Homo sapiens: one gene and its partner. The protein of the gene in region 1 interacts with the protein of each later gene in a pairwise test. Each region holds a gene or a part of one and is shown in the gene's direction. Other genes may lie near its edges.

Evidence for each region.
Region 2: the proteins of GLIS1 (region 1) and SOX3 come close enough for resonance energy transfer, tested with the Homo sapiens proteins (one large-scale study listed by BioGRID).

What each region holds. Positions count from the first base shown.
Region 1 is NC_000001.11:53,592,665-53,596,469, reverse strand, and holds part of GLIS1 (zinc finger protein GLIS1), read left to right. Parts: intron 1-1,479; coding exon 1,480-2,362; intron 2,363-3,805. UniProt on the Homo sapiens protein: Acts both as a repressor and an activator of transcription. Binds to the consensus sequence 5'-GACCACCCAC-3'. By controlling the expression of genes involved in cell differentiation inhibits the lineage commitment of multipotent cells.
Region 2 is NC_000023.11:140,502,339-140,506,539, reverse strand, and holds SOX3 (transcription factor SOX-3), read left to right. Parts: upstream 1-1,470; 5' UTR 1,471-1,479; coding exon 1,480-2,820; 3' UTR 2,821-3,555; downstream 3,556-4,201. UniProt on the Homo sapiens protein: Transcription factor required during the formation of the hypothalamo-pituitary axis. May function as a switch in neuronal development.

The sequences.
Region 1 (3,805 bases):
GTTCAGATGGGATGAGGTGGCGTGGGGTGTCCTAGCCAGACTTCAGGCATAGCACCAGGCTCCCTGTTCTGCCTAGCCAGCCAGGGGGGTGTCCTAACTCTCAGCCCTGCCTCACTTTCCTGACCTTTCCCCTTTTCAGAGTGCTCTGGTGACAGGTAGGCCCTTCCGTCTCTCTCTGCACCTTACCTGGTCCCCCCACTCAGAATGGTGGAAGCTTCAGTGCAGGAATCCCCTTGTGTTATTTAAGCCTGGCCTCCTGCGCAGTGGTGGAGGGAATGTTCCACATGTGGGAGAGGCCCTCTGGGCACCTGTGTACCACCTATGTGGTGAAGACAGCCACCTGGCAAACCCCAGCTGTGCCCACATACACCACCCTCGCTCTCATGGGGAGGATCCTCCTGATGTCCCAGAGGAGGAGAGAGACCCAGGATGGCAAAGGACCTTGCCCACGTTTGCACGGCTGGATGTGGCTGAGCCTGATCTCAAACCCACGTGCTCCCATGGGCTGCCCTGCCTGGCCTGCCCCATGGCTTTTCCCCAAAATCGCAGTTTCATGCAGTCACATTGTGAGGGCCTGAAACCCTGGGACCCCTCAGAAGCTTTTCCTCAGTTCCTCCTGAGACACCCCCACCAGGACTGCACTTCAGACTCCCCCATGCACTGACATTAACAGTGGAAAGGCCAGGCTGCTTGGGGCGAAGTGTCATACAATTAGCATTTGTAGAAGTTAAGCTAGATTACAAAAATTAAGAAAGATTTAAAGGACATGTAAGTGGAATTTAATATACCCTGGACCTGGGTGTTCCTCAAAATGCCAGCCTCAGCCTTCTTCCTGGAGAACTCACTAGAAGGCCACGGAGAGGGAGCAGGGCAGCCCCCTGGGAAGCAGGATGGCGTGGCATCCAGGGCTGGGTGGGGGTGCTGAGCTTTGGTAAAACGATGCAAGGTCCTCCTTCCTGGTGTTCTCACCACATTCACCCTGGAGTGCATGTTATGACCTTGGCTCCCTGCAGCCTCAACCTCCTGGGCTCAAGCAATCCTCCTACCTCAGCCTCCCGAGTAGCTGGGACTACAGGTGCACACCACCACACCTGGCTAATTTGTAAATTTTTTTGTAGAGATGGAGTCTCACTATGTAGCCCAAGCTGGTCGTGAACACTCCTGGACTCAAGCAGTCCTCTTGCCTTGCCTTCCCAAAGTGCTGGGATTATAGGCATGAGCCATTGTGCCTGGCCTCCTGCCTCTTCTTTCCCTCCCCAGCCCTTCTCTTCCTCTCTCTCCCCATTTTCCTTTACACTCTGCTTGTTTTCCAGACAACCAGTCTGTAGGTGCTCTTTCTCTGCCTCTAGCCCTCAGCCTCTGCCTCCTGCCCTGGGCTTGTCCATCCCTTGATCCTCAGCTTCCCTGTCTGCCCCCACCTGAGCCTTCCCTCTGTGGCGAGCCCAGCCTCTCATGACCTCTCTGGGCACTGTCTTCCAGGTCACCTAGACCCCAGGCCACGTATGTGAACGGCAGCCTCCCAACCACACAACACATCAAACAGGAGTCCTTGCCCGACTACCAAGCCATGGCAGAGGCCCGCACATCCCTGTCTGCCCACTGTCGGGGCCCGCTGGCCACTGGCCTGCACCCAGACCTGGACCTCCCGGGCCGAAGCCTCGCCACCCCTGCGCCTTCCTGCTACCTTCTGGGCAGCGAACCCAGCTCTGGCCTGGGCCTCCAGCCCGAGACCCACCTCCCCGAGGGCAGCCTGAAGCGGTGCTGCGTCTTGGGCCTACCCCCCACCTCCCCAGCCTCCTCCTCACCCTGTGCCTCCTCCGACGTCACCTCCATCATCCGCTCCTCCCAGACGTCTCTGGTCACCTGTGTAAATGGACTCCGGAGCCCCCCTCTGACGGGAGATCTGGGGGGCCCTTCCAAGCGGGCCCGGCCTGGCCCTGCATCGACGGACAGCCATGAGGGCAGCTTGCAACTTGAAGCCTGCCGGAAGGCGAGCTTCCTGAAGCAGGAACCCGCGGATGAGTTTTCAGAGCTCTTTGGGCCTCACCAGCAGGGCCTGCCGCCCCCCTATCCCCTGTCTCAGTTGCCGCCTGGCCCAAGCCTTGGAGGCCTGGGGCTGGGCCTGGCAGGCAGGGTGGTGGCCGGGCGGCAGGCGTGCCGCTGGGTGGACTGCTGTGCAGCCTATGAGCAGCAGGAGGAGCTGGTGCGGCACATCGAGAAGAGCCACATCGACCAGCGCAAGGGCGAGGACTTCACCTGCTTCTGGGCTGGCTGCGTGCGCCGCTACAAGCCCTTCAACGCCCGCTACAAGCTGCTCATCCACATGCGAGTGCACTCGGGCGAGAAGCCCAACAAGTGCATGGTGAGTTCCCACCGGCCGCCAGGCCTCACCCCAGCCCCTCTGGCAGAGCAGCACTCACCCCAGTGCCCCAGGAGAGGCCGCCTGGGACTCCGTCCTCTGGGCTGGCTGAGATCCCTGTGGTTGAGGAGGAAAGGACCCATGCTGTGGATGTGGCCCCTGGTCAAGACGGTCAGTGCCCCTGTCACTGGGAACCGTGGCAGAGGGGCCCTCATACTCACTAGGTGCCCAGTCCCCCACCCTGAGGCATTAGATATATCTTAGCACGCCACAGGGCCCGGGGCTGTGTGCACATGCGATTGGAAAAACAGGCGTGGCCAGCCTCTTCTTTCATGTGTTTGTGCTCCATGTCCCATCTGCTGGTGGCCAAATGAGATGTGGAGAACATACTCTCCTCCAGCGCTGGGCCCTCACCACCACCCATCCCAGTGAGGTTCCCTGGGCCTTCTAGTGCTGCCTACAGCCTTGGCTTCCACCAAGGAACAGTGGGGCCTAACAGGCACCCGGCTCGAGAGCTGCAGGTCCCCAGGGCAGGGTTTGGGCTGGGGCCCAGGGTTACTAGCTAAGGCCCTGGGTAGTACCAGTAGCGTTCTTCCTGGAGTTGAGACAGGTTTCTGGCACTAGCATTATGTGTACATGCGCACGTGCACACACACATGCATGCACGCGTGCACACACACGCGCATATTAACTGTGAGTACTCAGGCCTCCAGCCCTTGTGATGGATCATTTCTGTGACAGGTCATTTCTGCCCCGTCTGTGGGGAATACTGTATCAGAGGCTAGGAGCACTCCCTGATACACTCAGCCTAACTGCTGTGCTACCTCCGAGGCACAGCCAGCCCACTAGGAGAGGTGCCTGCCCAGAAACGGCAGAGCTGGACCTCAGGGTGTGCTTGGTGTTGAGAAGCATGGGCCACCAGGGCCACTGCCCAGCCCGCCCAGCCATCAGGACAGCAGCATGGCTGGTGTGCTGGGGCTGGTGCCATAGCTAAAGTCAAGCTGTTTCACACTTGGACTTGTGCAAGTGTCAAACACTGTCATTGGACACCCACTCATGGAGCACTTGGTCTGGGAAGGGGCATAGTGTCCCCATTCAGAGCCCAGGGTGACATTGTAGGGGCCAGGAAGGAGGCAGGACACATTGGCAATCAGCAGCATAAACTCCGTCCTCCTGGGGCAAGGTGCTTGCCCTTGGGCCCCACCTACCTGTGGAGCTGGGAGCTGGGCGTCGGACAGGATCTGCTTCTGCAGCTTCAGGAGGCTGGGTCTTGAAGGAGGAGAAAGAGTTTGCTTTGTAAACAAGTGAGCAGCAGTGAATGGCCTGTGCCAAGGGGAGGCAGGAGGAGGGAGCTTGTGGTTAGCATTCTGGTGTGTGGAGCAGTGGTGGGGAGAGTGCATTGGACAGGCTGAGACTTTGACTTTATCTTGTGCCTTTGGGCTGAGA
Region 2 (4,201 bases), on another chromosome or scaffold:
ATGCTTTCCGTTTAGTTCCCCACCTTTCCACGGGGCTAGGGATGATGGGGGGGCGAGACCCCACACCGTATGGACACCTTATTTTAGTTTCTGCCAAATCTGCCGGGATGGCTTCTCATTCCCACTCGCTACCTCGGGCTGCTCCGAGAGTTTCAAACGCTGTGCCACTCGCTTCAGCTGGCAGTGGCGATTATCGGGGTTTCCTCTCCCCGCAGCCAGAGTTCCCGCGCCGCTAGTCTTTGGCAGATAACCCAACAAGCAAGTGAATGTCCCGCTCCGAATCTCAGGAAGTCTCTAAAACAATAAAAGAGACGGACGGAATCCGTTAGCAGAGCCTGCTCCCGGGGGAGGCGGCGAGGCTGCGCGCCCAGAGTAGCGCTCAGCGGTCCCGGCAGGTGCGGGGGCAGTGGAGGGGGCCCGGCGGTTCGCCCGGAGGACGGCCTCGGCTCCGCTCCGGCCAACGTTCCCCCCTCCAAGAAACTTTTCTTTCACTCTGAGAGGCTCCGTGTTGCCATGAAAACGGATTTTCCAAGGGGCCCGACCCTCCCCCTCAGGGGCATCGGACTGGAAAAACCGAAATGGCCACAGAGCAGAGACAAAAAGGGGCCGCTAAGCGGGGGCCAGGATCGAGAGAGCGGAGGCCAGTTCACCCCCTACGTCCCACACATACTTTCCACACCACCTTGTGCGAGCGCCTCCGACAGGCTCAGGAGACGGGCGACTGACTGCTTGCCCGCCCTCCTGCAAACCCCCAAGAGCCTCACAGCCGAATGCACCCCGCAGTCCTGAAGCCTGTCTCCCATGCCCGGGCCCCTGACCCACGCTGCGTCCTGGACGCACTGGCCCTCCTAGAGAAAGATCTGGACAACCAGCGGCCAATTCCAGGGAGAGCTTCTTGGAGACGCAGCCAGGAGCACTTCCAATGAGCCTGGAGTCCCTAAGCCGGCCTGGGTAGCTGGTGGTGCCCTGCGTTCCTAGCGCTGGCAGCAGAAGCGGCCAGAAAACCTCCGTGCAGACAACGGGAAGCTTTGCGGGCTGGCCGGGGGATGGGGCGCCGGTCTGCCTTGACAGGGTTGCAAAGTTGTTTTCTAAATTCCGAAGGCGCCCCTCTGCCCCCTCCCCCCAATCTGCTTGCGTGCCCCCTCCCCCCTCCCCCCGTCACCTCCTCAGGTTTCGTTCTTTCAAACTTTTTGAAACCCTAATTGGTGGCCTCTGAGTGGGCCTCGTGGACTCCCGCCTCCTAAGTAACTCTTACCACGTCACTAGGCCAAAGAGGGGCGTGGGGTGAACGAAAGGGCTCCCCGAACTTTTTTTTTTCCAGCCAGGCCGAACGGGGGCTCGGTAATGATTGGCCAGGGCGCATCACTGCGAACCTGTCAATCACGGGTCCTCCGGGTTGCGAGGGGCGGACCAAGCCCCAACCCCGGGGAATCCGAGCAGGTATATAAGGGGCCCAGCTAGAGCCCAGGCAGACTGTGAATGCGACCTGTTCGAGAGAACTCATCAGGTGCGAGAAGCCCGCGGGTTCCTGCTGATTTGGCGCGGAGCATTTTGATAAGCCTACCCTTCCCGCCGGACTCGCTGGCCCACAGGCCCCCAAGCTCCGCTCCGACGGAGTCCCAGGGCCTTTTCACCGTGGCCGCTCCAGCCCCGGGAGCGCCTTCTCCTCCCGCCACGCTGGCGCACCTTCTTCCCGCCCCGGCAATGTACAGCCTTCTGGAGACTGAACTCAAGAACCCCGTAGGGACACCCACACAAGCGGCGGGCACCGGCGGCCCCGCAGCCCCGGGAGGCGCAGGCAAGAGTAGTGCGAACGCAGCCGGCGGCGCGAACTCGGGCGGCGGCAGCAGCGGTGGTGCGAGCGGAGGTGGCGGGGGTACAGACCAGGACCGTGTGAAACGGCCCATGAACGCCTTCATGGTATGGTCCCGCGGGCAGCGGCGCAAAATGGCCCTGGAGAACCCCAAGATGCACAATTCTGAGATCAGCAAGCGCTTGGGCGCCGACTGGAAACTGCTGACCGACGCCGAGAAGCGACCATTCATCGACGAGGCCAAGCGACTTCGCGCCGTGCACATGAAGGAGTATCCGGACTACAAGTACCGACCGCGCCGCAAGACCAAGACGCTGCTCAAGAAAGATAAGTACTCCCTGCCCAGCGGCCTCCTGCCTCCCGGTGCCGCGGCCGCCGCCGCCGCTGCCGCGGCCGCAGCCGCTGCCGCCAGCAGTCCGGTGGGCGTGGGCCAGCGCCTGGACACGTACACGCACGTGAACGGCTGGGCCAACGGCGCGTACTCGCTGGTGCAGGAGCAGCTGGGCTACGCGCAGCCCCCGAGCATGAGCAGCCCGCCGCCGCCGCCCGCGCTGCCGCCGATGCACCGCTACGACATGGCCGGCCTGCAGTACAGCCCAATGATGCCGCCCGGCGCTCAGAGCTACATGAACGTCGCTGCCGCGGCCGCCGCCGCCTCGGGCTACGGGGGCATGGCGCCCTCAGCCACAGCAGCCGCGGCCGCCGCCTACGGGCAGCAGCCCGCCACCGCCGCGGCCGCAGCTGCGGCCGCAGCCGCCATGAGCCTGGGCCCCATGGGCTCGGTAGTGAAGTCTGAGCCCAGCTCGCCGCCGCCCGCCATCGCATCGCACTCTCAGCGCGCGTGCCTCGGCGACCTGCGCGACATGATCAGCATGTACCTGCCACCCGGCGGGGACGCGGCCGACGCCGCCTCTCCGCTGCCCGGCGGTCGCCTGCACGGCGTGCACCAGCACTACCAGGGCGCCGGGACTGCAGTCAACGGAACGGTGCCGCTGACCCACATCTGAGCACCGGCCTGCGCTCGTCCACCCTTGTTCCCCACCCCCACCCCCACTCCCGCCCCGCACCCCCAAGTTGGGACGCCTTGTTTAGCTTTGCTTGCCTGGGACTGTTGCCTTGTACCGATGATGGGGAGGGCTGAAAGTTTTGCTGTAGCTGTCGGGTTTTGTACAAAAGCAAAAATAAGTCAGGAGCAGCGAAAATGGGACTTCTAGAGAGCTCTCTTGCCCCACGCCGCTGCTCCTTTCACCTTTGTAGGCTGGGAATCGCTGTGTTATTTGCAAAGAAAAAACAGCCCCCACTCCTCCTCCTGAGTTCCAGGGTTATTCTGTTACATTTGAAAATGTTGTCTTGTTAGTTTGCAGTTAGCCAAGGAGTGAATGGGAGAAACATAGTATCGGGTGAGGCCAGCTGGAGAACTGCAACGCCTACGCCCCCAGTCGTGTCGCGTCTGTTTTCCTCGTGGTTTTTTGGGGCGCTGACCGCTCCAAGCAGCGCGGCAGCTAAAGCCAATGTTAATTTATAGCCAGGTGTGCGTGTGTCTCCCGCCTCGCCGCCCCTGGCCGCGGGACAGCTTCTGTCCAATCATGTTGAGTTGGTGATTTCTGCCGTGATCTGTTTGATATTTCTTCGCGCTAATGTGTTCAGATTTCGTTTGGGTAGTGGGGAGGGGCTACTTTGTTTCAGGGTTTTCAAGCTTTTACTCTTAATTCCTAAATGAGATCAATAAATTTTATAACCAACATGATGGAGTCCTGATAATTTTGCGGCCCTGAAACTTTTTTGCAGGTTGGGGAGGAACCAACACTCGGTTTTACAACTGAGATCCCATCCTAGGGGCGGGGTGGGACCTGGGGGGAGGCAAGCATAATCTGAAATGGTTTCCTTTTAACTACTGGTGATCCACCATACACCAGCTTCCAATATTCTCAACTGAAACTCGGAACAGAGTTCCGAGTCTTCCAGGAGCGTCTCCCGAGAGCGGGCACACAGTAGTAGCTAATGCGCAGAGCCCGCGGCCGCGCACTTGTTGATCGCAGTGAGCGTCTGCTGAAAGTGTCTGCTGCCGCAGCCACGCGAGGCGGGGCTGGAAAGGCGCGGCCGCTGAAACCGACCAAAAACGGGGCACTTTTACCTTTGTGCACTGGGGCGGGAAGACATTTGAGCCTAGCTGAAATATTTACAAAACGAAAACCCTTCGGAAATCTCGATGATCCTATTAAAAATAAATGGTTACAGGGATCCCCAGCAGGAAACAAATACGTTTCAACCCTGGTAGCTGAACCGCCGGAGTCAACATTCAGCGCTGGAAGATTTGGTATTAAAAAGTACTCCTTAGATTTTCAAAGATCTCCGAAACTCCTCCCAGGCGTTTTGTTTTTAACATGT